Linked DNA regions of Homo sapiens: regions 2, 3, 4, 5 and 6 are each linked to region 1. The links come from fine-mapping of genetic effects on gene expression. A gene starts in region 1. Each other region holds a variant in brackets. All regions are shown on one strand. Distances are between the middles of the regions.

Region 1 (4,002 bases):
GCCTTTCAAATGCGGCTTGTGTGACTAAGGAACTGAATTTTAAATTGTATTTAATTTTAATTAAAGTTAAATAGCCGCATGTATTGGATTAGCAGTCTAATAGACCCTTCAAACATTCAAGTAAGTGTTGGAAATGGAAGGTCCATTATAGGAAATCTAGGAATCTTAAATTCTCACCATCGGGTTTAAAACTCTATCATTCCTTCAGTATGAACTTTTCCAGAAGTTTCAGATTTTCAAAAGATAAAACTCAAACCAACCAAATCCTTTAGGGTGCTTTTCTGTATGAATCATCTTTCTGCAAAGAGGTGTAAGACTGTCTTTATTGCCAACTCTGCCCCCTCTTCTACAGACAGAACTCAGTGATTAGATTCTGCATTTATTTAGGTTATTCGCCTAAAAAACCTGGTTTCCATACTGCAAATAAATGACAGGAACTTTTCCACTAGATTATCCCAGACAGCAGAAATGTTCTTTCCAAAAGTGGAGCCTGGAACCACAGCCCCCTCACATTGCCTGTTACATCTGTTTATGCTTATAGAAGTGACATCCACTTCGTAGACAGAGAATGCCAATTTCTTGGGAAAGGACCCAGAATTTGGTGATGCTTAAAGGAAAAAAAAGCCCTTGCTGCTTAAAATTAAAAAATACATAGAACTGAGTATTGAGTAGTTACAAAATCCTTCTGAAATGAAAAGATTTTGCTCCCAGAGTATATAGAATTTGTGTACGGACTTGCCTGGGTTCATATTCAGCCATAATCATTTACTATTAATAGCCAATAAAGAAGCGGGTAAGTTACAAAACCTAAACCTTAGTTTTTCCATCAGTGAAATGGGGCTAAAAATAGTTATGTTGGGAAAACTTGTGAAAGACTTTGAAATGAGCAAAAGATTACTGTTTGTCCTTTCAATGGAATGCTGGATGTTATCTACAGGACTCCGGAGTGTTGTGAAATTTACAGTCGTCTGCACCTTACTTAGACTGACTTTCACTAGGCTATTTTACTACTCAGTAAGCTGTAGAAACGTTTGGTAATGTAAATGAGTTTTATCTACAGAATGCAAATTTGTTACTTTACAGATACAACTGGTTACCGCCCTGTAAAGCAGATAATAATAAACATTACATTTCAGTGCTCTATAGAATAGTAAGCAGATTTGCCTCTTCTTGCCTCTATGTCTACTCTTCACAGTCTCACGTGAATGGGTTGCAGTATCTTGCTGGGGTTCCCTTCCTAATTAAAAGAGTTATAAAAATTTTGACCAATGTTCATTTTATATTTCTACCATTGTCATGTTTTTACCTTCTTGAAAAATTATTTTTTAAGAGTTCCTGCTCCCTAGGCTTTTTGGAAGGATTGGTTTAAACATCTGTATTGACAGTCATGATCAGTTTTATATCTTGCAGGAAGGTGGTAACACTTCCGGTACTTGGGGGTGTAAGAGGTTGTACTGAGCCTTTAGAAAAGGGCGGGGTTCGGGGGGGAGTGAGCTGAAAAACTCTCCCTAGACAGGAAAGGTAGAAGACCTCCTCATCCCTTTCTCTTTGGCAGTGAGATCTTAAGGTCAAGGTGAGTAGTAGGCCAGGCGCAGTGGCTTAGGTGAAGGCCACACCAGACTTGGGCCTACGTCTTGGCCTTCCAGGTCAGCAGAGTGGCCTGGGACTTGGATGCCTTGGGGTCACGGAGTTAACTGCAGACTCAGACTAAGTGGGGCCCCAGCAGCGGTCAGCCCCAGAACCAAGTTCCGGAGCCAACACCCGAACAGGAAGGGGCCTTGCCCCAGGCCGGAGAGGCCCCTCGCCCACGGCCGAGGGGGTGGGGCGGCCTCGCCTCGGGCCGGTGCTTTTCGCCCTTCCTTGGCCGCCAGAGGCTCCCTCTCTCTCCCTCTCCCGGGATTTTGCTGCCGGGCTCCCTCTCTCTGCGGCCCTAGAGTTAATCCCATCAGCCGAGGTGAGGCACCTGTTACCCCGGCCTTCCTCACCCCCGCGGCCTCTCCTCCATTACACCGCGGCCGCCGAAACGGCCCGGCGTGGCGACCGCACGTGGGCCAAACCCCTTCCCCGGCCGGCACCCCTGGCCCCAGGCCGGCCCGAGCGTGCGGGCGCGTCGCTGCTCGGGCCGCCGCCCGCCCGCAATGGCGTTGGGGAGCGCAGCGCGCCTCCCGGGGCCGCCCGCCGCGGGCAGGGAGCGCCTGGGGGCCGACGCGCGAGTGGAAGCGGCCGCCGCAGCCGCCCTACGCGCTGCGCCGTGAGGAGCGGGTTGCGGTGTACCCAGCGGGCCGGCGCCGAGCCGAGCCGCCGCGTCCACCGTGGGGCGGGGGGCGCCTGCGAGGAGGGGGTGGGAGCCGCGGCGGCCCGACCCTCCCCGCCCGCGGCGCTCCCGCTCGGGTAAGGGGGAGGCTGAGCGCGGGGCGAGGAGTTGGGGAGGGTGGAGAGGAGGAAAAAATCGGCTTGTACAAAGGCTGAGTTGCAGGCTGGGGGTGGGGGTGGGTTGTGGTGGAGGAGCAATAGGTTGAAGATCGGAGGCATTATCAGTGGGATCTATTGTTTCCTGGCACATTGGGAGGAAAAACAAAGGGATTTATTTTCATTACCCTGTAATTTTTTTTCTTTTCTATTTTTTTAAATGTGGCCAGGGAGCTCGTCTCTCTCCGTGTCACAGTGGGATCCGCCTGGCAGCCGCCGGGAGCTGCAGCCAATGTGTTAGGACTTCAGGTGCTTCTTGGCACAAAGCTAGACTGCGACCTCCTACCATAGCGCTTGGCGTCACCTGCTCTCCCGGTCCTGCCCCAGGGCCGAGGGATTGCGTCCCGAACCGGGCTTGGGAATCGGCTGCCTCTCAAGTTGGTGTTATTTATGTTTGTCTTTTGTGAGGGCAGGTTTTGAATCCCCCGGCGGCCCCATCTCCCCCGCCCCCGCCTCCTTGGGTTGGAATTGGCGGGGGAGGGAATGGGGGGTGTGTGTAGGGGAGAGGGGAGGGTGTTTGTGGCTTTAAAAAGAATGGTCAGGGTAAAAGGAGATTGTCGATGCTTTACAAAAAAAGAAAAAAACAGGCACCACACTCCAAAGCCTTTCTTGTTTGTCTGCATGGGCCATGCATGCGTGCTGGGCCAGGAGCCGAGTTTGGAGACGGTTTAAGTGAAAGTGTGTGCCTCCTCAGCTGATTGTGCGTGAGGGTGATGTGGCTCGGTCTAATATCAAAACAAAACAAAAATAAAATGAAAAATCTTTAGAACTGCCTGCATTGTCTGCTCCTCAGCATATCTTGAAGTATTTGATTGCTGGCTTATTGATATAAAATCCTGCTGTGGGCTTAAAGAGACCAGCAAGCATGCATTGCGTTGCGTGTTGAACTGTAGTAAGTTAGAGGCAAGAAAGAATAAACAAATCAGGGCTGTGAAAAGGGGTGTCACAGTATATTTGCTTTCTGATTGTCACATTCTTACGCATTTATTCCCTTGGTAGTCTGCATCCCACTCCATAATTAATAATAACCACTGTTAGGAAACTTCCAAATACTTGTTATAACTGAACTTAGTGAAACTTATTGCTATTCAGGAACTTTTTTTCTCCTTGTTTTGATCTGAAATTGCATTAGTATTGCTTTGGGGATGCTGTAGATGAGAACATTGGACCAAAAAAAGTAAAATATGCCGCTGTAGGCATGTTTTGGAGTTTGTAAACATAGATTCCAAACTTAATTGTACTTAGAAAGAATAAGTTCTACCTAATTGTGGAGAATCCTAAATGAAGTTGATTTTCTGGACAGTTTGATGATTTCTTAAAGATCGATGAACTGCTGGTTTCTTTTTAAAGGGCATTCACAAAAGCGACCAAAACTTGGGCTAAAGTATTGCTTTCAAATATACTTATGTGTAGCTTGTATTTGTGAGTGTGTGTATGTGTTTGTGTGTGTGTGAGATTTTGATAGGTATCTCCAAATTGTGTTTGGAACTTTTTTTTTTTTTTTTTTACCAAAGACCAATCAGAATGATAACT
Region 2 (4,002 bases), 69 kb after region 1:
TTTCAGGACCCTTAGGGAGCTTTTCAGATAAGTTTAGCTAGCATTTTTAAATTATTGAAAAAATGAACTCTTCTCTTAATTTGGAAAAAAAATACTGTGTTGCAGTCTTTAGAAGAATCTTAGTATATAACATACTCTGGTCTCAAAATCAAATAAGCAGTGACATTGTGCTATAACCTAAAAATTGATATGAATCACTGTGATAAAGGAAGTTTACTCTAGTTTATTCATAGATGAAGAAAAGTAGCCTGGTAGCTTGAAGCTGTTCTTTTAGCTTTGCTGCAGATTTATAAAATGTTCAACATTTCCATTTACCTCTGGACAGGCTGTAGTTTTTTTTTGTTTTTTTTTTTTTTTTTTTTTTTTTTTAAGGATTAAGATCCTTGAAGCTAGAGGTCTTTGAAACTGCATCTGAGTGGAAGAGGTCTAGTGTAAAGTGACTCATTCTTAAACATATTCAGAAATGCTGTGGGCCAAATTGAATCCCTTGAAATATAACCTGTATACACAGTTTCCAGAACATGAGCTAGTTGTGTTTCAGAAGTTTATGTGTAAGACAGCTGTTTGGAACTCAGAACACATTTTTTTTTTCCTTATTGAAGCAGTACAAAAATTACTGGCTATGTTCCCAGGCCAGTTCACAAATATTTTTCACCCAAATGTACTTTAAGTATTAACTGTACAATTTCCATTTATTGAGTTGATATTTTTGTTTCTGTGGGAAAATATATCCCAAATCAGTTTGAAAGAAATAGGTTATCTTTGCTTAGCTGGATTGGGGTCTTCTCAGAAGATGTCACTGGTCATTCATAAAAACCAGTAATTTATTAATTGTACATTTTTAACCCCTTCCTCTCAATTATAAAGGTACAATTTCAGGTTATTCATTCCCCTAGTGATTACTATTTTAGAAAGTAGCCCCGGTTTCTCTGTCTTCCTCTTTCTTTACTTTCTCTTTTCTCTCTAAATGTTGGGTCATTATTAAGTTTATGTCTCTATATCAGGGATTGTGTGTTCAGGTTTGGTTACAAAATGGTTAGTGCTCCTGTATTTTTTTTAGCCAGCATTGATTAACAGAGTTAATCACTTTCTGTCTTTAAAAGAGACTGATAAGGGCTTATGATATAAAGTTTATTTGGGAAATTATCTGTTATCTGTCAAGTATGGTGATGACTGGTATTGTACAGGACAGAAAACTAAAATACCTACTAAATTATTAATAACATAAAATAATACAAAAATTATTACGGCATTGTTTATTATGTTGGATTTTAGTTCTTTGGTGAGTCATGCATAATACATTATCTGTTATATTTAACATGTTTTATTCTTTTTTTTTTTTTTTGAGATGAAGTCTCGCTCTGTCACCCAGGCTGGAGTGCAGTGGTGTGATCTCGGCCCACTGCACCTCTGACTCCTGGGTTCAGGCGATTCTCCTGCCTCAGCCTCCCGAGTAGCTGAGACTATAGGCATGTGCCACCACGTCTGGCTAATTTTTTATATTTTTAGTGGAGACGGGGTTTCAGTGTGTTAGCCAGGATGGTCTCGATCTCCTGACCTCGTGATCCACCTATCTCAGCCTAACATGTTTTATTCTTAATGCATATTTTGTTTTGACTGGTTGTGGTTGGTGAATATATGTGTTCATTAAATAAAAGAGGTTCTTTTTAGCAGGGAGTAAGGCTGTTTTAACTTCAGCCTCAGGGAATGTTTTACTTTGATGGGATGGCTGTTATTTTGAATGGAATCAAGGATCTGGAATCTTTTATTTATTAATCATTCACTCTACATGTATTTATTGAGTATCTGCTTGGTGTCAGGCTCTATTCTAGGTATTGGGGATACTACAGTGACCAAAACAGACATGGTCCCTTCTTTATGTAGGTTATATTCTTGCTGGGGATCTAGAGAATAAATGAGAATTGAATAAGTAAGTGTGTGTTG[C/A]GATATATTGGGAAGGTAGATCCAACTTGGCTAACAGATTGGCTATGGTATATGAGAGTAAAGGATATCAGCCAGGTTTTTGGTCTAAACAGCTAGAATCCTGTAATTGCCTTTCCCTACAGTGGGGAAGACTGAAGGATATGGGGGCTTGTGGGAGTAAGAGGGGATCAAGGATATGGTTTTTACATATTAAACTTGAGGTGCCTGTTAGACATTCAAATTGAGGTGTTCGAAAGGCAGTTTAGGGGAGATGTCTGGGTTGAAGAGAAATTTGGCAGTTGTCACTAGAGAGTGAATATAGGAAAAGAAGAGATTCGAGTCACAAGCCCCAGAGCTCTCCATTATTGAGGGGCTGGGAAGACAAGGAATCAGCAAAGTAGACCAAGAAGAGCAACTGTGACCATCAAGAATAGCTGAGGTAGATGGTTCCCCAAAAGCCAAGTTAAGAAACATGTTTCAAGAAAATGGGGTGATCAGTTTTGTTAAATGTTGCTGATGGTTCGACTAAGATGAGAATTGACCATTGAGCAACATTGAAGACATTGGTAATCTTTGAATGGAGTCATTTTCATGGAGAGGTGGGACAAAAGCTTGAATGGGGTGAGTTCAGGAGAGAATTTAGAGGAGATAATTAAATTGAAGATTAACAAGTCAGACTGTTTATCAATCTGTAGACAATTGACAATGAGTTCCTGAGAGGATGGTTGGGATATGAGGCCAAATCAGGGGATATAGAGAATGTTATGGTGATAAGAGGCTAGGTGGTGAAGGATGACTTGGGTATCTTGGTCTTCTTTTTCATTTTCTTTTTTTTTTTTTTTTGAAATGGAATCTTGCTCTGTCACCCAGGCTGGAGTTCAGTGGCGTGATCTCGGCTCACTGCAACCACTGCCTCCCAGGTTCAAGCGATTCTTCTGCCTCAGCCTCCTGAGTAGCTGGGACTACAGGCACGTGCCACCATGCCCGGCTAATTTTTGTATTTTTAGTAGAGATGGGATTTCACCATATTGGCCAGGCTGGTCTTGAATCCCTGACCTCATGATCCACCCGCCTCGGCCTCCCAAAGTGCTGGGATTACAGGCGTGAGCCACCATGCCCGGCCCATCTTGGGCTTCTTGTGGTGACTGATATGAAGGGGATAAAGTGAGTGTTTAGCTCCAGTGTCTTCAAAGTAGATTGTGATGCAAAGCCTGTGAACGTTGAGGGATAGGGAATGGGGAGTGGCATAATTCTCCTAGGCCATAAAGTGATTTCTTATAAGATACCTAGCTAAGGAATAATCTAGGAGAGTAAATTGTTTCAGTTTACCTGAGATTGAATTGTACCAAAAAGCCAAATTATGGCTATCTACTAAATATAGAGCCTGCATGTTTTTAATTGATTTATGATTATAGAGTAGACTAAATTTTTATGTGACATGTAAATGGCTACTGAAAGAATAAATGCTTGAAAGACTGAATAAATATTACAGATTCTCCTTCAGTAAAGTTATGAAAGCCTGATAAATAATTCTAGGCATGATAGTATTTTTCCTAAAAACTTACTCCTTTTCTTGGAGGCTGCTTAAAAATTTTACATTGCCAATTCATTTCTCGACACTTTTTTCTATCTTGATCTTTTTTTTGTGGGCTGCATTCATTTTCATTCAGTGGTTTCTTCGCTGAGTGCTTTTCCCAAAATAAACACCAGTCATATTTAGAATGAAATAATGACCTAGTGTAAGTATTCTGAATACTGTTTCAACTTTTCAACATTTCTGAAAATTCTAGACTGATTTATTTTCCAGAATCCATTTAATTTAGATGTTCAGAGTAGTGCTTCTTCTTAAAACATCAACAGTTTTTGTTTTGTTTTGTGAGACACGGTCTCGCTCTGTTGCGCAGGCTGGAGTGCAGTGGCGTGATCTCAGCTCACTACAACCTTCGCCTCCTGGGTTCAAGCTATTCTCCTGCCTCAGCCTCCCGAGTAGCTAGGATTACAGGCATGTGCCACCAGGCCCAGCTAATTTTTGTATTTTTGGTAAAGATGGGGTTTTGCCATGTTGGCCAGGCTGGTCTC
Region 3 (4,002 bases), 390 kb after region 1:
AAGCAGCCTGGGTATGTTGGCAGATTTTGTTTGCATTTGTCTTGCGTATTTAAAGTCTCAGGAAATCTAGTCTTGGTCCAAAACACTGGAGAAAAAAATAACACCAGACAAAACACATTTGAGTAACTTGAAGTAGCAGCATAGAATAGGCCCAACTAAGAAGTTGGAGGGGCAAAGAGAAAGCCGACAGAATCAGCTTCTCCTGGAAAGTGAAAGCATCAAGTTCTATTTATGGTAGACAGAGGGTCCTTATTTGCTTGTCCGTGGTGTCTATGTGGGCCTATTGAGGGAATGGTAGTTACTTGAAGGTTCACATATGTAAGCGTGTGGACCCAGCACAGTCTGTGACCTGATTCCAGATCCTCAAGAGTGGAGAAGGAAAGAAATATGATGATTTCCTATGCTTGACCCTAACCCAACCCCAAAACTGCTAGGGATTCAACAGTGAGTAAGATGTATGCAATAAGAGAACAGATAACTTCTCAACAATGTGCATGCCGTTTGTGTAGATGTTCAGAACTACATATGTGTGAATATCACTCCCACCTTACACACGCACACACACTGCAATCACATGGCATTAAAAAATATATTGTGTATGGAACTTGGCGAGGTCAGTCAGGACCTGGAGCTGTAATCATAGCCTTATTGCCACTTCTTGCGTTGTGTATACATTGAATGGCTCATAGATTTTAAGAGATTTTTTTATTGTAAGTATTTCTACTAAATGCACTTATCCTTCTATATGTTTATATATTTTGGTAAAATTGATTTATCAGATACTTGGTATTTTAGTAAGAAAATTTCCTCAAATATTTGGCTAATGCTTTGATGTCAAGATTGCATATTGCTGAGTTGGAGCTCAGAAGAAATGTATGCAGCTAAAAATTGCACTGTGTGTTCTTGTGAATTTGCTCACAATTCTAAAATGACATAATTGGTGGCTGTGATGCTTACAGTCACTGCCTACTGGCTCTCTTATGATGAATGTTGCCATCATATGATCATTTATTTACTTTTTGTGCAAGCAATGGCATTTTGGTTGTTGCCAAAAACAACACAAGTGGTTGGGAGTGTATGTTGTTGGAAGGTGTACACTTCTGTTTCTTTCAGCTGTATTATTTATACACCCAGGTTTTCTGTTAAGGATGTAATCATTCATTCAAGAAAGAACAATTGGCAAGAAATAATTAAATTACCTTAAAAAGAATTAAGAGGCACTCCAGCCAGATAACACCTCCCAACAACATGAAATTTAGTTAGTGCTTAGTGAAATTCCTTAAATATATATGTATATGTTTTCTTCAACATTATTTAATATAACTACTGCTTTTATATTTTTTAATGGTGTTGCAACCACTTGTACACCTGCTACACCTTACTGACAAAACTGGGCAGCTGAAAATAAAAGAGAATAAATTCTATTCCACTGTAAGAAGTTGATTTCTTTTCAGCTTTCTTTGTATATCAGTAAAGAACACGAATTGTTTGAAAATAATTTTAAGTCTGATAAGTATGGATAGCATGTTACCTAAGCTTTTAATTTGTACATTTTGATGTCTGATCATTTGCATGGAAGAGACAATAGTGCCACGTCTGAATTGTTCTCTTGTGCTTGGTTAATATGTACTTCTCTAGATTGTTCAAAAAGTTTCAAATGACATTCCTTACTCTTTGGTTTTCAGAGGCATTCAAGCAAAATATCACAGTGGTCTTTTGTTTTCTGACCAATCTAACAATACCTGTGATTAAATTTAATTTGTTAGTGTAAATAAATTTCTTGCCAATGAGTATTATTGTTGTTAGACAACGAATGCAATAAAAAGAAATACTGAGGTCTGTTGAAGCAATTTTTTTTCCCTCTTCCATTTTCACCTTCAACTAAAACAAGCCTTGACTGGGTAAACCTGTATCAATTGTCAAAGCATATATCTGTCAATCA[A/G]GAGCAAAGTGCACATTTTTCATGGAAATGAAACTAAGTCTTAACTGTGGTAAAGTGTAAATTGGCAGCTAGAAATTACATTTGAAAGCACAATTATGGAACTGGGCATAAAGTTAAAAGAGCAAAGCCTGCACTCGAAGCTTCCTCGCCCGTCATTTTGTTCCCCTGTCGCTGCTTCACCATCAAAGTCTCTGATATCTCTCAGCCAGGAAAACCTCTGTGACAAATCCATTAAGTAGTCAGTCTCACATAGCGAGGGGCAAGCTAAGGAAGAATCAGGACCATCGTAGAGTATGGGGTTATTTTAAACAATATTCTTTCTAAAGCCTTAAAAATAAGTGAGGGCTATTAATTTCATTCATTCTTACACACGCAAACTATAATTTATATGTGACTAAGCCTATGTCAGTGCGAAAATTTAGATCTGGGAATCACAGAATACATGAATTAAGCTGTTTTCCTCTTTTTCACAATGTATGTTATGAAATTTCTAACCAAGCCATGTCCCTTTTTGAGTGATCTTGAGTATGTGCTGTGTCAAATTGGATAGGCTTTTGTTTCTTCAGTGGAATTTGCTTATCTATCATCAAGAACAAGAAAGAACAGAATGTGGTCATTTTATTGAAGATGTTAGGGAGCCTAACTACTCAGGAAATTCTTTCTTTCTAAATAATGAAATATGTTGGGGGTGTTCCCTAAGCATCACACTCATTGATAATTTCAAGACAGTCTTTCAGAGAACCCAGCATCCTGGGCTGTGAGCAGCATCTCAGAAAAATTGAGCCCATGTAGGGCACGGGATATTATGTCACTGGAATCATGAGTAACTCCAATCTTGCTGTGAATAAAGTGGTTTTTTGACCCAAACAAAATGTTCCTGTTTATTACTTCAAGTCAGTGATTCTTAAACAACTGTTGGTGGTTCTCAATTTATTGGCAAAACATTTTCCCGGAAATGCCAGACTATCATCATAACAAGTGCCTTAGAAAAACTTCGTTTCTGGCTGGGTGTGGTGGCTCGCACCTGTAATCCCAGCACTTTGGAAGGCCAAGGCGGGTGGATCACCTGAGGTCAGGTGTTCGAGACCAGGCTGGCCAACATGGTGAAACCCCGTCTCTACTAAAAATACAAAAATTAGCCGGGCATGGTGGTGTGTGCCTGTAGTCCCAGCTATCCGGGAGGCTGAGGCACAAGAATCTCTTGAACCTCGGAGGTAGAAGTTGCAGTGAGCCAAGATCGCACCACTGCACTCCAGCCTGGGCAACAGAGTGAGATTCGGTCTCAAAAACAAAACAAAAACAAGAAAAAAATTTGTTTCTAAAGTCACTGCCTTAACACCCTGAAGAAGTAATTCATCATGAAGGTTATACCTTCAAATCAGAAAAACAAATAAATGAAAATGTGTAACCTTTATATATCAGTTTCTATAACAAAATGATAAAGTCATGTTTTCTTCCTAGTCATGTCTCAGTAGATAGCCAAAGGGGTTGTTGATCTTTTCTATTTATTTGTTTGTTTACCTTTCTATTATTTTTTTTCTTTTCAGCCTCCACAACAAGAAGTTTAAATATTAAACAAAAACCCACCAGCACTACCACCACCTCAACAACAGTGTAGTCTTTGGGGACACTTTTAGCTTCGCCCATGTCAATTATGGGATTCATTCTGTATCCAGTCATCGAAGTGAACAAACTTCCTTTAACCAAGTCAAAGACACTCAAATGTACAATTTGTGCCAAGATCATAGAGACTCATAATTTTCAGGTGTGACAACACTCCCAAGAATTTTAAGATTTTCCTATGTGTCATTGCAACAGGAGAATTGAAAAAGCAAGAGTACAAGGGGAGTTGGAATAATTCAGGTTAATATTTACTGAGAAAAAGTCATATATCGAAGGGAAAATGGGAGTAAGTAAGTCTGACTGCCATAGTCAGACTTACTATGTGCATGGAGTAGAGGGGAACTTCATAATGCATATGTTTTCTGGCCTGTGAACTGGAGTCCCTGGGTGAGTACTGGAGTTCTAAAGACACGTGAGCTAACCCTGCTCCCCTGTGT
Region 4 (4,002 bases), 270 kb after region 1:
CTCAACTACTTTTATGAAGCCAATGTTGCTATGATAGTATAATTTTTAAAAGGCATTAAAATACAAACTATCACAAACCAATATTCCTCATGAATGTAAATACAGAAGTCCAAATTGGATTATAAATCCAATAGCCAGGTGACATTTATTGTTTGAATGTATGGTTGATTTAATGTTTATGAATCAACCCATGGAATTTTTCTTACTGATAGGATTAAGGTAAAAGTCATTTGTTCTTCTCAATAGATGTAGATTTTTTTAAAAAAGCTCTCAGGAAACTTGAAATAGAAGGGAATTTCCTCAATGAGATAAATAGGATCTTAGTGAAGCCTGCAACTAATAACATTCTTAATGGTGAAAGACCTAATGCTTTTCTCTTGGTATTAAGAACAATGCAAATATCTCTACCCTCACCACTTCCATTCAAGATTGTACCAGAGGCCATAGCTAATTCACTGAGACAGTAATAACTAATTGAAAGCCCATAGAATGAAAAGGAGGAAGTAAAACTCTTTATTCACAGGCAATATGGTCATTTATACACAGATGACCATGAAGAAAATCCTAAAGTATCTACAAAAGATGCTACTTGAACTGATAACTGAGTCCAATCATGTTATAGAAGATGAAGTTGTCCAATCATGTTACAGAAGATGAAGTTGATGTGCAGAAATCAGAGTGTATATACTATCAACATTAATAATTGAAAATTCAGATTGAAAATAACATTGATGACAGCATCCAAAATATTAAATACTTAAAGGTAAATCTAACAATATATTGCAGACTTCCACACTTAAAACAACAAAATATTGCTGACAGAACACAAAGACAATTTAAATGAGGGAAGAAGTAGACCATGTTCAATGTATTATAATATTCAATATTGTTAAGATTTCAACTTTCCCTAAATTAGTCTGTAGATTAAACATAACCCTAGTAAAAATTTTAGAAGATTATTTTGTAGATGTTATTGTTAAAAAAAATTTCGGAGGACTTTCCCTGCCTGAAAGCATCACTAATCAAGGCAATCTGGTTGAGGTATAAGAATAGTAATATAGATTAATGGATCAGAATAGAACTTTGCAGTGCAGACCTGCGCAGATATGAAGAATTGATTTTTTTTTATAAAGGTACCAAGGTAATTCCGTGGAGGAAATTATAGTTAACTCAAAAAATGGGGCTGAAAAAATTAAATAGTCTCATTGAAAACAAAATACAAACCAAAAAATGCCTTGACCTTCATCTCACAGTATATATAAAAATTAACTTAGAACTGATCACAACCCTAATTGCAGCAGCTAGAACACTAAGATTTCTAGAAAACAGGCAAAAATCTGTAATTTTAGATTTAGTGAAATAACTCAGGAATAGAAAATCAAATACCTTATATTCTCATATATAAATTGGAGCTAGACATGGGTATCCATGGACATACAGAGGGAAACGCTGTAGGTAATATACACTGGGGACTCTAAAAGAGGAGAACTGGAGGAGGATGAATGTTGAAAAATTATCTGTTGGGCACAATGTTCATTGTTAAGGTGATGAGTATGCTAGAAGCTCAAACCCCACTACTA[T/C]GCAATATATCCATGTAACAAATCTGCATATATACCCTCTAAATGAATGAAAAAAAATTTTTAATGCAATATAACAATTTAAAAATTTTTTTAGGGCACAAAAGCAAAAAGTGTAAGAGGAAATAATGATAAACTGCGTCAAAATTTAAAACATTTGTTACAAAATACCCTTAAGAAAATGGAAAAACAAGCCACTTAAGAAAATGGAAAAACAAGCCACAGAATGAATATCTGTAAAACAATTTTCTGATAAAGAACTCTTGTAATTCAATAAGATTATTATAACAACTATATAATGGAGTTTTTAAATGTGCAAGTCCTATTAAAATGTACAAATCACTTAAAGAGACAGTTCATCAAAGTAGATATACCATTAAACATGAAATGCTGCTTAACATTATTAGTTATTAGGGGCAGGTAAATTAAATCCACAATGAGGTTCTACTGTACACCTGCTAAAAAGGCTGAAATTAAAAAGACTGATACCACTATGCATTGATAAGCATATGGACTGAGGTTCACATTTATTTGCTGATCGGAATGCAAAATAGCACAACCACTTTGCAGAACAGTCTGGTAGGGTTTTCCAAAGTTAGGCATACACTTATACCAGCTAGCAATTCCGCACCTCGGTATTTACTCAAGAACAATAAAAACATATATTTATATAAAGACTCATATTTGCATATTCATAGCAGCTTTTTCATAATAACTAAAAACTGGAAACAACTCAAGTGTTCTTTAACTGATAAATGGATATACAAATTGTATTATATCCCATATAATGAAATATTTCCCAGTGATATGAAGGAACAAACTACCAATCCTTTCAATACCATGTATGACTCTCAAAACCATTATACTGAGTAAAAGAAGCCAGATGCCAATAGCCTGTGTACTGTTTGAATACATTTGTATAAAATTCTGGAAAATACAAAACTGTGCTAATAGCAGATCTATGATTGCTCAGAATCACGAAGGGAGGGAATTGTCTGCAAACAAGAAGGAAGGACCATTTCTGAGGTGATGAAAATGTTCTATATTGTGATTACTGTATTTCTTACACAACTATGTATACATTTATCGAAACTCCTCAGATTATACAACTTAAATTTGATCAATTTTAATGTATATAGATTGAACTCAGTAAAACTGAATTTTAAAATGTGAGATAATAGCTATCGTTAACTTAAAAAGCACCATACGAATTGATTATTGTTGATAGTGATAGTGATGTGAAAAGGACTGTGTCTCTTTAACAAAGGCAGATGTAATCAATGTGAATTTCATTAGCAATCTCTAGATTTTATGGTTCTGTGTACTTTTACTTTTAAAATATTATTATTGACTTTTTACCAGAAAATATTTTCTGTACAATTTCTTGCATCTAATTTTTTTATCAAACATGAATTTGCAACATAATTTTTGAAAACTCATGTTTCTTGAGTCTACAGCTATAAACAGGACCTTGCCTGTCTTGTTGACCACTGGCATAGTTGGTGTACCTATTGTTGTGTAACATATTACTATAAAATTCAGTGACCTGAAACAACTAACTTTTATTACCTCATGGTTTCTGTGATCCGCTTCCCAGCGAACTCATTTGGGCCCCTCTGCCAGGCCTCTCACAACATGAAAACTGGCTTCTCCAAAAAGTCATACAAGAGAGTGCCCAAGATGCAATCTGCCATCTTTTTGTAACCTAAAATCTGAAATGACATCCCGTCAGCTCTGTATTTTATTTGATAAAAGTGAGTTAATATGTCCAGCCTACATGCAAGGATAGATAATTACATTCAGACTTAAATAAAAGGAGTCAAGGATCACTTGGGTCTATGTTAGAGGCAGCCTATCATAGTACGGATCAATAACTAGTTGGATGGATGGATGGATGGATGGATGGATGGATGGATGGATGTGGAGGGATGGTCAGTCAGGCAGACAGATGATGGGCAAATAGATTAATGCTATACCACAATATAATTTAATTTATGTTGCATACCCAACTTAATCCTGAAAAACTTGAGACTATTTAGGAAAGATTGACCAGGATGGTGAGAGGTATAACTATTTTCCTTCTATATATAAAAGTTAAAATATTCTATAACCCTTTGCCTTTAAAAAAAAAAAAACTTAAAAGACATGGTAATAATTATAAAGCATTTGAAAAAGTGAACTCTGGAAAAAGGATTAGATTTTTTTTTAACTCCAGACAATCATTCTAGTACTGTCAGCAATTTGGCAAAATTTGATATAAGACAGAGATTTTGTTTCAATTTGAAGAAATTTTCAATGATTTATATGTTTGCTCTTCAGTGTCATTCACATTAAACTTTAAATGCTTTCAAGAAACTATCTGCTACCCATGATCAATAACTATGCATTCATTTCACTTTTATCCCTAGCATATGGGTTTAATAAC
Region 5 (4,002 bases), 410 kb after region 1:
TGAAAACTCAAAACTCCACAGGAGAAAAAAAAATTCTCAAGAATGAGTATCACTGACACTAAAACTCCAAAGAATCCTTTAAGTTTTCCAGTTCAAATGGTCTCCACGAAATGCACAGTTGCGATGAAAGGGATAAAAACCATGGGAACTCCCAATATGAGAAGGTGTGATCAGGTGTAATTTACACAGTGTGAGATGATACATTCCATAGAAGAACATCTGAGAAATAGTAGCAAACAAACAGAAGCAGCTTCCTTGGATAAGTGGGACTTTAAGAACACAAAGGTGACCAGTCTAAGCGGTCAAGAATGTGTGATCAGAGCTGGCAAGTAAAAGTTAGATTATGGTCTTTGCCTTAAGAAAGAGTAGGTCTTTTGAAACCTCTGACATGATCAAATTGGCGTTTTTGTTTTGTTTTGTTTTGTTTTTGAGACGGAGTTTCACTCCTGTTGCCCAGGCTGGAGTGCAATGGCGCCATCTCGGCTCACTGCAACCTCCGCCTCCCAGGTTCAAGCGATTCTCCTGCCTCAGCCTCCCAAGTAGCTGGGATTACAGGTGCCCACCACCATGCCTGGCTAATTTTTGTGTTTTTAGTAGAGATGGGGTTTCACCATGTTAAGATGCAAAATTTGGCAGGTTGAATTGAGAAGATTTGAACAGAGAAAGCTGCTAAAATGATTTTCATTACCCCATTCAGCAAACAAGTGTTTAATTTATTTTAGTTGGCGTTAAATGCTACAAAGGAAAAATACAACAGGATAAAAGAATAGAGAGTAACGAAGTATTATCTTCATGGGAGTCAGGCATGTTCTCTCTGATGAGGGGATGTTAGAGCAAAAACCTAAGTGAAATAAGAGAACGAATAATGTGGATATCTAGGGAAAGAGCATTCCAGGTTGAGGGGAGAAAGTGTGCAAAGGCCCTGGGGCAGAACTTCCTGGACATATTCACTTAATAGTGAGGTTGTGCTGGGAGTGTGCAAAGGCCCCGGGGCAGAACTTCCGGGACATATTCACTTAATAGTGAGGTTGTGCTGGGAGTGTGCAAAGGCCCCGGGGCAGAACTTCCTGGACATATTCACTTAATTGTGAGGTTGTGCTGGGAGCAGAGTGAAGGCAAGAGAGAGTGGGAGAGTGAGAGGGCTGAAACCACAGGGAGCCAGAATCAGTCTTGTTAGGGCTTAAGATGAAGATCCAAGCTTTGCTCACTGGGGTATTTGAACCAAGGAGTAACATGAGCTGAGGCTACAGCAGTAATCCAGCAATGTGGAGAGAAAGGACTGGACCAAGAGGATGCCACTGGCAATAAAAGGCAGGAAAGGTCATGAGAGGCATTTGACAGGAAGAATCCAAAGGCCCTGAATACAGCTGAGGAAGGAGGGTGTTGGAAATCAAATTCAAGTGAGGATTAAAACCTGAATTCACATTTTGTGCAGTGGATTCTACTTCTAGAAATGTATCCTAAGGATATAGTCTCAGAAAATACATGTGCGAGAAAGTTTATTTTGGCATTGTTTGCAATGAGCATAAAGGTGGGAACAACCTAAATATTTGTTAGCAGATGAGCTATATTACAGTGCTCCCACACAACTGAATCCCGAACTGCCTTGGCAAAGCAACTGCAAATGTGCTATATATAAAGGAGTCCATGATGTAGTGTTTAATGCAGAAGAAATTTATAGAAGGGGTTGTGTAATATTACCTCATTTTTATTTTAAAAAGTATCCACACATCAAACACTATATTTCTTTGTACTTAAAAATATTTTTAAAATAAAACATAATGGTGATGAATGGGTGGATGAGTGGAAAGTCCATTGAAAGGGATATATATGTATATGTGTGTGTGTGTGTGTGTGTGTGTGTGTGTGTGTGTGTCTCACATGGGGAAGAGAAGGAAAGATAAAAGGATGGAAAATCACTTTCAACATTTTGAGTTTAAAGTGTCTATAGGAAAGGAATCCAAATAGAAGTGTCCAGTAAGCACCTGCGGCATTAAAAGTGAAGGGCTAATGAAAAGAAGAAGAATAATAATACCCCTATTTGGGGATGTCCTCCTAGAAAGCAGGCAGTGTGACACTGGTTTGAAAGTTCTAAAATAGAGAAAATATAGAGGAAGTAAAAGATCAAACCTCTGGGGTAGTGCTCAGGGAAGTAGCAATGAGTGACAAAACAATGAATTGGGGAGAAAACCTGTAGTAGGATGAGAACTGGAACAGCTAGGTGCACTGCAGTATCAGGGAAGAGCAAGTTTTGTGAATGAGAAAATGGTAAACAGCATAAAAGCAGGTGAAGTAGGCTGGGC[G/A]CGGTGGCTCACAACTGTAATCCCAGCACTTTGGGAGGCCGAGATGGGAGGATTGCCTGAGCTCAGGAGTTCGAGACCAGCCTGGGCAACATGGTGAAACCCCCGTCTCTACTAAAATACGAAAAATCAGCCAGGCATGGCGGCATGCACCTGTGGTCCCCGCTACTCAGGAGGCTGAGGCAGGAGAATTGCTTGAACCCGGGAGGTGAAGTTTTCAGTGAGCCAAGATTGCGCCACTGCACTCCAGCCTGGGAGAGAGCAAGACTCCATCTCAAAAACAAAACAAAACAAAAAACAAAAGGAGGTGAAGGAAGGAAGGAAGGGAAGAGGGAAGGAAGGAGAGGGAGGAAGGGAAGAGAGGAGATTTGTTAGTAGGAACATCACTGATGATTCTCAAGGTAGCAATTTTAGCCACCCACAGTGGGGAAAGTCCAGAAGAGGAACTGAATGAGGGATCGTCTGATGATGAAATGGAGGTAATGGGTATAAACGTGGTTCTTAACCCTAGCCTGACATTTTTATCAACTGAAAAACTTTTAACAACTACTGTGATCCAGGCCTCCCTCAGACTAACGGAATTGGAATCTGTCAAGCTGGGGGCTGGGCATCGAGTCTTTTTAAACTCTTCAGGTGCTACCATTGTGCAACTGGGGCTGAAAATTAATACAGAGACAAGGAAGTGACAGCAAATGGAAAGGGAGAAAGGGAGTAAAGACATAAAGGATGACACCAAGTTATGTTGAAAGGGACCAACATGCAGAGGAGCATTTTGAACACAGAACAGAGGAACCAGCGGACAGGAGGCATTGAAGATAATGGGACCGGCAGAAAGCTGACCATGGTGACTTTCTGTCACTGGACCTATAGCTTACAGATGCCTTGGGTTAGAAAAATCTGTTCCTGTAAATGCCCGAGTCTTGAAAATCGTTTAAAATGGAAAAGCTATAATGATCAGGGCTGGATATTATTATTATGGTAATTATAGGGATAATGTGAATGTTAGTATTTTACAAAATTAGATGCTTTACAAATCTTAAATATTTTAGCATTCTCAAGTATTTAAGTGGTTTTACTATAAAGTTCAATTAACATAGAGGGTAAGTTTAAAACCCAGAGTAAGAACATTATTCATGACTATGCTTTGTTTGAATGAGAAAAAATAATTCATTTATTGGCATGTTTTTCTGTTTTTGTTTTAAGTTTGGTTTTGGTTTTAATAAATAGTAAATATTGTTACCTTCATCTGTGAATGTGCTAATCCCATGAGGGTTAAATGAAGATACATCAAATTTACTTCCAGTGATCCCCAATTCCAACACTGTTGGATCTTCTTCATTCAGGTCCATCAGAAGTATTTTTCCAGGACTGTTGGGGTTGAAGCTCTTTATTCCAGGATACTTTAATCCCTTATAAACCATGGAGGAGAAAAATCAAGCACAATACCAGTACTTCAAATGCTAATAGAGGCGCTGCATGGCCCATGGGTTCATGTTGACTGCTCCAAACCACAGGGCTAGCCAGATGGCCACATAGGAAGCCTCTTAGTTAGCTTCTGTAATGGGTCCCCAGGAGAAGTCTTCTGGAAGCCACATGCTCCACTAGGCCACCCCACACAAACCCTTTCATCCCCTGCAGCAAAGTCATATGTGCACGACACTACAGCTTCCAGCCCATGAGAAAGATCAAAAATGGAAGAGCA
Region 6 (4,002 bases), 25 kb before region 1:
CCAGTACATCAGCATCGGCCTGGGGATCACATTTTCATCAAAGGGTGGGAAGAAGGGAAACTTGAGCCAGCCTGGGAAGGACCTACCTTGTGCTACTAACCACCGAGACTGCTGTTCGTACAGTGGAAAAGGATGGACACATCACACCTGAGTCAAGCAAGTGCCATTATTATCAGAATCATGGGCCATTATTCCTGGATCAAGCCCTACCAAATTAAAGCTAAGGGAAGCTTAGTCTATCTATCTTTTCCTTTCCTTTCCTTACCCGGTGCTTACATCCGTTACTATTCCTAACCCTAGCAACTCTAACCCCACTTTAGAGCATTTCTGTGTTAGGAGCAGAAGTCACTGGAAAAGATCCTATAGGCTTCTTTAAGGTGTGCTTTGTTCTCCCTTCTCCACCTCCTACAGCTGCCCCTTTTCCAAACCTACGAAGTCAAACTATGACTCGCCTTATGCCAAGTGACAAAAGCAAGGTCTCAGTAGTAAAAATAGGAAACCTAAGGCAAACCATAGCCATTGAAACGGGGTATAAAGCCGTAAATGCCTGGTTAAAATGGATTAAATATTCCGTCCATACGTTAAACAAAGGCAATTGTTATGCTTGTGTGCACAGCAGGCCAGAGGCCCAGATTGTCCCCTTTCCACTAGGGTGGTCCTCCAGTCGACCGGGTGTGGGCTGCATGGTAGCTCTTTTCCAGGATTCTGCAGCCTGAGGTAACAAGTTGTGCCAAGCTCTCTGTCTGCTATATCCCAAAGTTTGACACCCTGAGGGTCAGCCCCCGAGGGCTATCCAGCTTCCGTCTCTCAACACTAAGTTCATTTTATGTCCCTCACGACAGGGAGGCAACTTAGTGTTCCTTGGAGACCTGAAGGGATGCAGTGACCTTAAGAATTTTCAGGAGCTTACCAATCAATCAGCCTTTATTCATCCCTGAGCAGATGTGTACTGGTATTATGGCGGACCTTGACTGGACACTCTGCCAAGTAACTGAAGTGGCACTTGTGCTTTAGTCCAATTGGTTCACCCTTGCATTTCATCAGTCAGAGAAAGGAAAAATAAGACATCGTAAAGCAAAAGAAGCCCCTTATGTGTCTTTGTCTTTCGACTCTCAAGTCTATTTAGACACAATTAGAGTCCCATGGGGAATACCAGATCAATTTAAAGCCCGAAATCAAACACCTGCAGGATTTGAGTCAATATTTTGGTGGGTGACAATTAATAAAATGTAGATTAGATAAACTACATCTATTAAAACCAACAGCGATCTGTTAACTACACTAGAAATGCTGTTAAAGGAATAGCTGAGCAATTAGGGGCTACTAGCCAGATGGCTTGGAAAAAATAGGATAGCCTTAGACATGATATTTGCAAAAAAAGGAGGAGTTTGCATCATAATTAAAACTCAATGTTGTATCTTCATCCCAGACAACACCGCCCCTGATGGAAGTATAACAAAGACATTGCAAGGTCTGACTGCTCTGTCCAATGAGTTAGCCAACAACTCAGGGTAAATGACCTCTTTACAGGATGGCTAGAACAATGGTTCAGTAAATGGAAAAGAATAATAGCCTCAATTCTTACTTCACTCACAGTCTTAATGGGTGTACTTATTCTTGTCGGGTGCTATGTCACACCATGCATCTGTGGGTTGGTGCAGAGGCTCAAAAGAATGGCACTTACTAAAACCTC[A/C]CTTAGCTATCCTCCACCTTATCCAGAGAAGCTTCTTCTTTTGGAAAATCAAGCAGAACAACTAAGCCAAGACATGTTAAAGAAGTTTGAAGAGAAAGAACTGTAAGGAAGATGCAAGAGGAGGGAATGTTAGATATGAGTTCTAAATTTCTCTTCAAAGAATCAATATGTCAGTATGTTCAATTCTTTGCCTTCTACTTTTAAACTTTATTTCCTCATAAAGCAACATTTTTCGGTTACCTGCTCCACCCTGACTCATTCCGATTACCTGCTCCTCCCTGACTCATTCTGATTACTTGCTCTGTCCCAACTCATTCTGACCACAGAATGACAGAGAAATGATGTTAGCTTTCTAAAGCTCTAAGGAGGAGTTCAGGAGCATATTTGCCTATTATCAGAACCTAGAGTAATTAGTATTTAAGTTTCTTTTTTTAGTATAGGACAGTCCCTTTTGCAATGTCCTGACCTTCTACTACATTATCTACAAGCATTTTGAGATGAATTTTGAGATTGGTAAGAAACATAGGTGGGCTTTGCATTACCTCTAGAGCTGCATTTCTGTTTTTGTAAAGACTCAATTAGTAAGACAAGAACTGTTGTTTTTAACTCTTGAAAGAATTGGTTGACAAAATCAATGATAACCTTGCCTGTCCATCCAACTACACACTACAGATGGTCCCTGACTTACTGTTGATGGCTGTTGTGAATCCTAGGTTCTTGTCTTCTTAGTTTAAAAGAATTTCAACAAAAGACACACAGCAAGGGAGATATTGCATAGAGCAATTTATTGCAAAGGAGAAAGAATACTCTGAAAGTTAGGTTCAGAATAGACAGTATACCCTAAGAGGCAATTCAGAGGGGACTGCTCATGAGGATGAGACAGCATTGACCATTACTAAGGAAACTCCCTTTATGGAGGCTTACATGATTATTCATAAGGGGGTGGGAAGAGGTTGCTAGGAAGCATGTTTTGGGTGGTCCTCTGGGTGCACATGCACAGTAGCTGTACATGCTTGTTTATACATCACATGTCTCATTAATATTTTAAAGCTCCACCCAGGGGTGTGATTTTTACTGTTATAATAAGCAAAGGGTCAGTCTGATGACTGGTCAAATCACAATGCACATGCTCTCTACAGGGGAGGTTTCCTACTGGAGATAGTTTTGCTTGAATGAGCTTGACTACAATGCAAACACTGGGCTTATTGGGGCGGCATTGTTGCTGAATCCTGAGGACATAGTTACTTTCTTGACTACCTGGTTACTATCCTGCCTCATTACAATGTTTCCATTTCGGATTTTTCAACTGTATGATGGTGTGAAAGTCATACAGTCAGTGGAAACTGTACTTCAAGTGTTGAATGATCTTTTTCAGGGCTAGCAATATGCTACTCTTGTGGTGTAGGGCATCAACAGCAAGTGTCAGCACCCAGTCGGTCACACAATCACAAGGATGACCACAACTGATACTCCACAGGTGAGGAATAAAGAGAACTTTCATCTGAGGAATATGAGCCCTTTCCTATTATTAGGCCCAGAGAGGCATTAAAATGAGACAGCAATCACTCCCTCCTCCACCTTTGAGCTATGTATTCATCTCTTGAAACTTCTGGCTATTGCCACAAGTAGCTATAAATTAGCCCAATAATGCCACAGTGGACACGCTAACCCATACCCTATAGCTTAACAATGTACAATCACTAATCAATGTTATTTCTATAAACCAATGAGAATTTCTGAACAAACAAATTTGTATCAGCCCGCTCCCTGTGCCCATCTTTTTTTTTTTTTTTTGCCTTTAAAAATCCACTTGTAACTGCTACTGATCAGAGTGTATATTCAGGGCAATCTGAATCTATGCTCCTGTATTGCAATCCTCAAGGCTGGCCAAATAAACTCTACTTATATTAATTTTGCCTCAGCTTCTTCCTTTTATTTTATTTTTTTGAGATGGAGTTTTGCTCTTGTTGCCCAGGCTGGAGTGCAATGGCACCATCTCAGTTCACTGCAATCTCCGCCCCCTGGGTTCAAGTGATTCTCCTGCCTCAGCCTCCCGAGTAGTTGGGATTACAGGTGCCTGCCACCATGCCTGGCTAATTTTTTGTATTTTCGGTAGAGATGGTGTTTCACCATGTTGGTCAGGCTGGTCTTGAACTCCTGACCTCAGGTGATCCAGCCGCCTCAGCCTCCCAAAGTGCTAGGATTACAGGTGTAAGCCACCGTGCCGGCCAGCTTCTTCCTTTTAGGTCAATATAAGGTACTTTGTTGACAGATGATTTTGCCCAACTGTAGGCTTATATAAGTGTTCT

Which allele goes with the higher level. Positions count from the first base shown, and alleles are read on the strand shown. Sizes are in standard deviations (SD) of each study's normalised expression. Not every link is listed here.
For the expression in atrial appendage of the gene that starts at base 1,846 in region 1, C is the high allele of the variant in region 4 and T is the other (small effect, 0.15 SD a copy in GTEx).

What was found. PIP is the estimated chance that this variant, and not a neighbour inherited with it, causes the effect.
Region 2: its variant is the best candidate, but not a certain one, in a credible set for the expression of PPP1R9A in tibial artery (GTEx, PIP 0.73).
Region 3: its variant is the best candidate, but not a certain one, in a credible set for the expression of PPP1R9A in lung (TOPMed, PIP 0.65).
Region 4: its variant is the best candidate, but not a certain one, in a credible set for the expression of PPP1R9A in atrial appendage (GTEx, PIP 0.65).
Region 5: its variant is the best candidate, but not a certain one, in a credible set for the expression of PPP1R9A in whole blood (TOPMed, PIP 0.58).
Region 6: its variant is the best candidate, but not a certain one, in a credible set for the expression of PPP1R9A in nasal epithelium (TOPMed, PIP 0.55).

The regions. Positions count from the first base shown.
Region 1 is chr7:94,905,749-94,909,750 of GRCh38, forward strand. PPP1R9A (protein phosphatase 1 regulatory subunit 9A) reads left to right here and starts at 1,846. Exons shown (of 20, transcript NM_001166160.2): 1 at 1,846-1,954. RefSeq lists an enhancer at 1,903-2,663.
Region 2 is chr7:94,975,015-94,979,016 of GRCh38, forward strand. All of the region lies in intron 2 of PPP1R9A (protein phosphatase 1 regulatory subunit 9A), which reads left to right. Among named protein-coding and RNA genes, the nearest start is that of PPP1R9A, 69 kb to the left of the region's middle. The variant C/A (reference allele first, on the strand shown) is at 1,945.
Region 3 is chr7:95,294,566-95,298,567 of GRCh38, forward strand. PPP1R9A (protein phosphatase 1 regulatory subunit 9A) reads left to right here. Exons shown (of 20, transcript NM_001166160.2): 20 at 1-1,835. It overlaps PON1 (paraoxonase 1), which reads right to left. Exons shown (of 9, transcript NM_000446.7): 9 at 3,111-4,002. Among named protein-coding and RNA genes, the nearest start is that of PON1, 28 kb to the right of the region's middle. The variant A/G (reference allele first, on the strand shown) is at 1,943.
Region 4 is chr7:95,171,801-95,175,802 of GRCh38, forward strand. The region is part of intron 5 of PPP1R9A (protein phosphatase 1 regulatory subunit 9A); the gene reads left to right. PPP1R9A-AS1 (PPP1R9A antisense RNA 1) reads right to left here. Exons shown (of 4, transcript NR_183324.1): 2 at 3,147-3,289. Among named protein-coding and RNA genes, the nearest start is that of PPP1R9A-AS1, 41 kb to the right of the region's middle. The variant T/C (reference allele first, on the strand shown) is at 1,581.
Region 5 is chr7:95,311,782-95,315,783 of GRCh38, forward strand. PON1 (paraoxonase 1) reads right to left here. Exons shown (of 9, transcript NM_000446.7): 4 at 3,541-3,709. Among named protein-coding and RNA genes, the nearest start is that of PON1, 11 kb to the right of the region's middle. The variant G/A (reference allele first, on the strand shown) is at 2,304.
Region 6 is chr7:94,881,086-94,885,087 of GRCh38, forward strand. No RefSeq gene overlaps it. Among named protein-coding and RNA genes, the nearest start is that of PPP1R9A, 25 kb to the right of the region's middle. The variant A/C (reference allele first, on the strand shown) is at 1,694.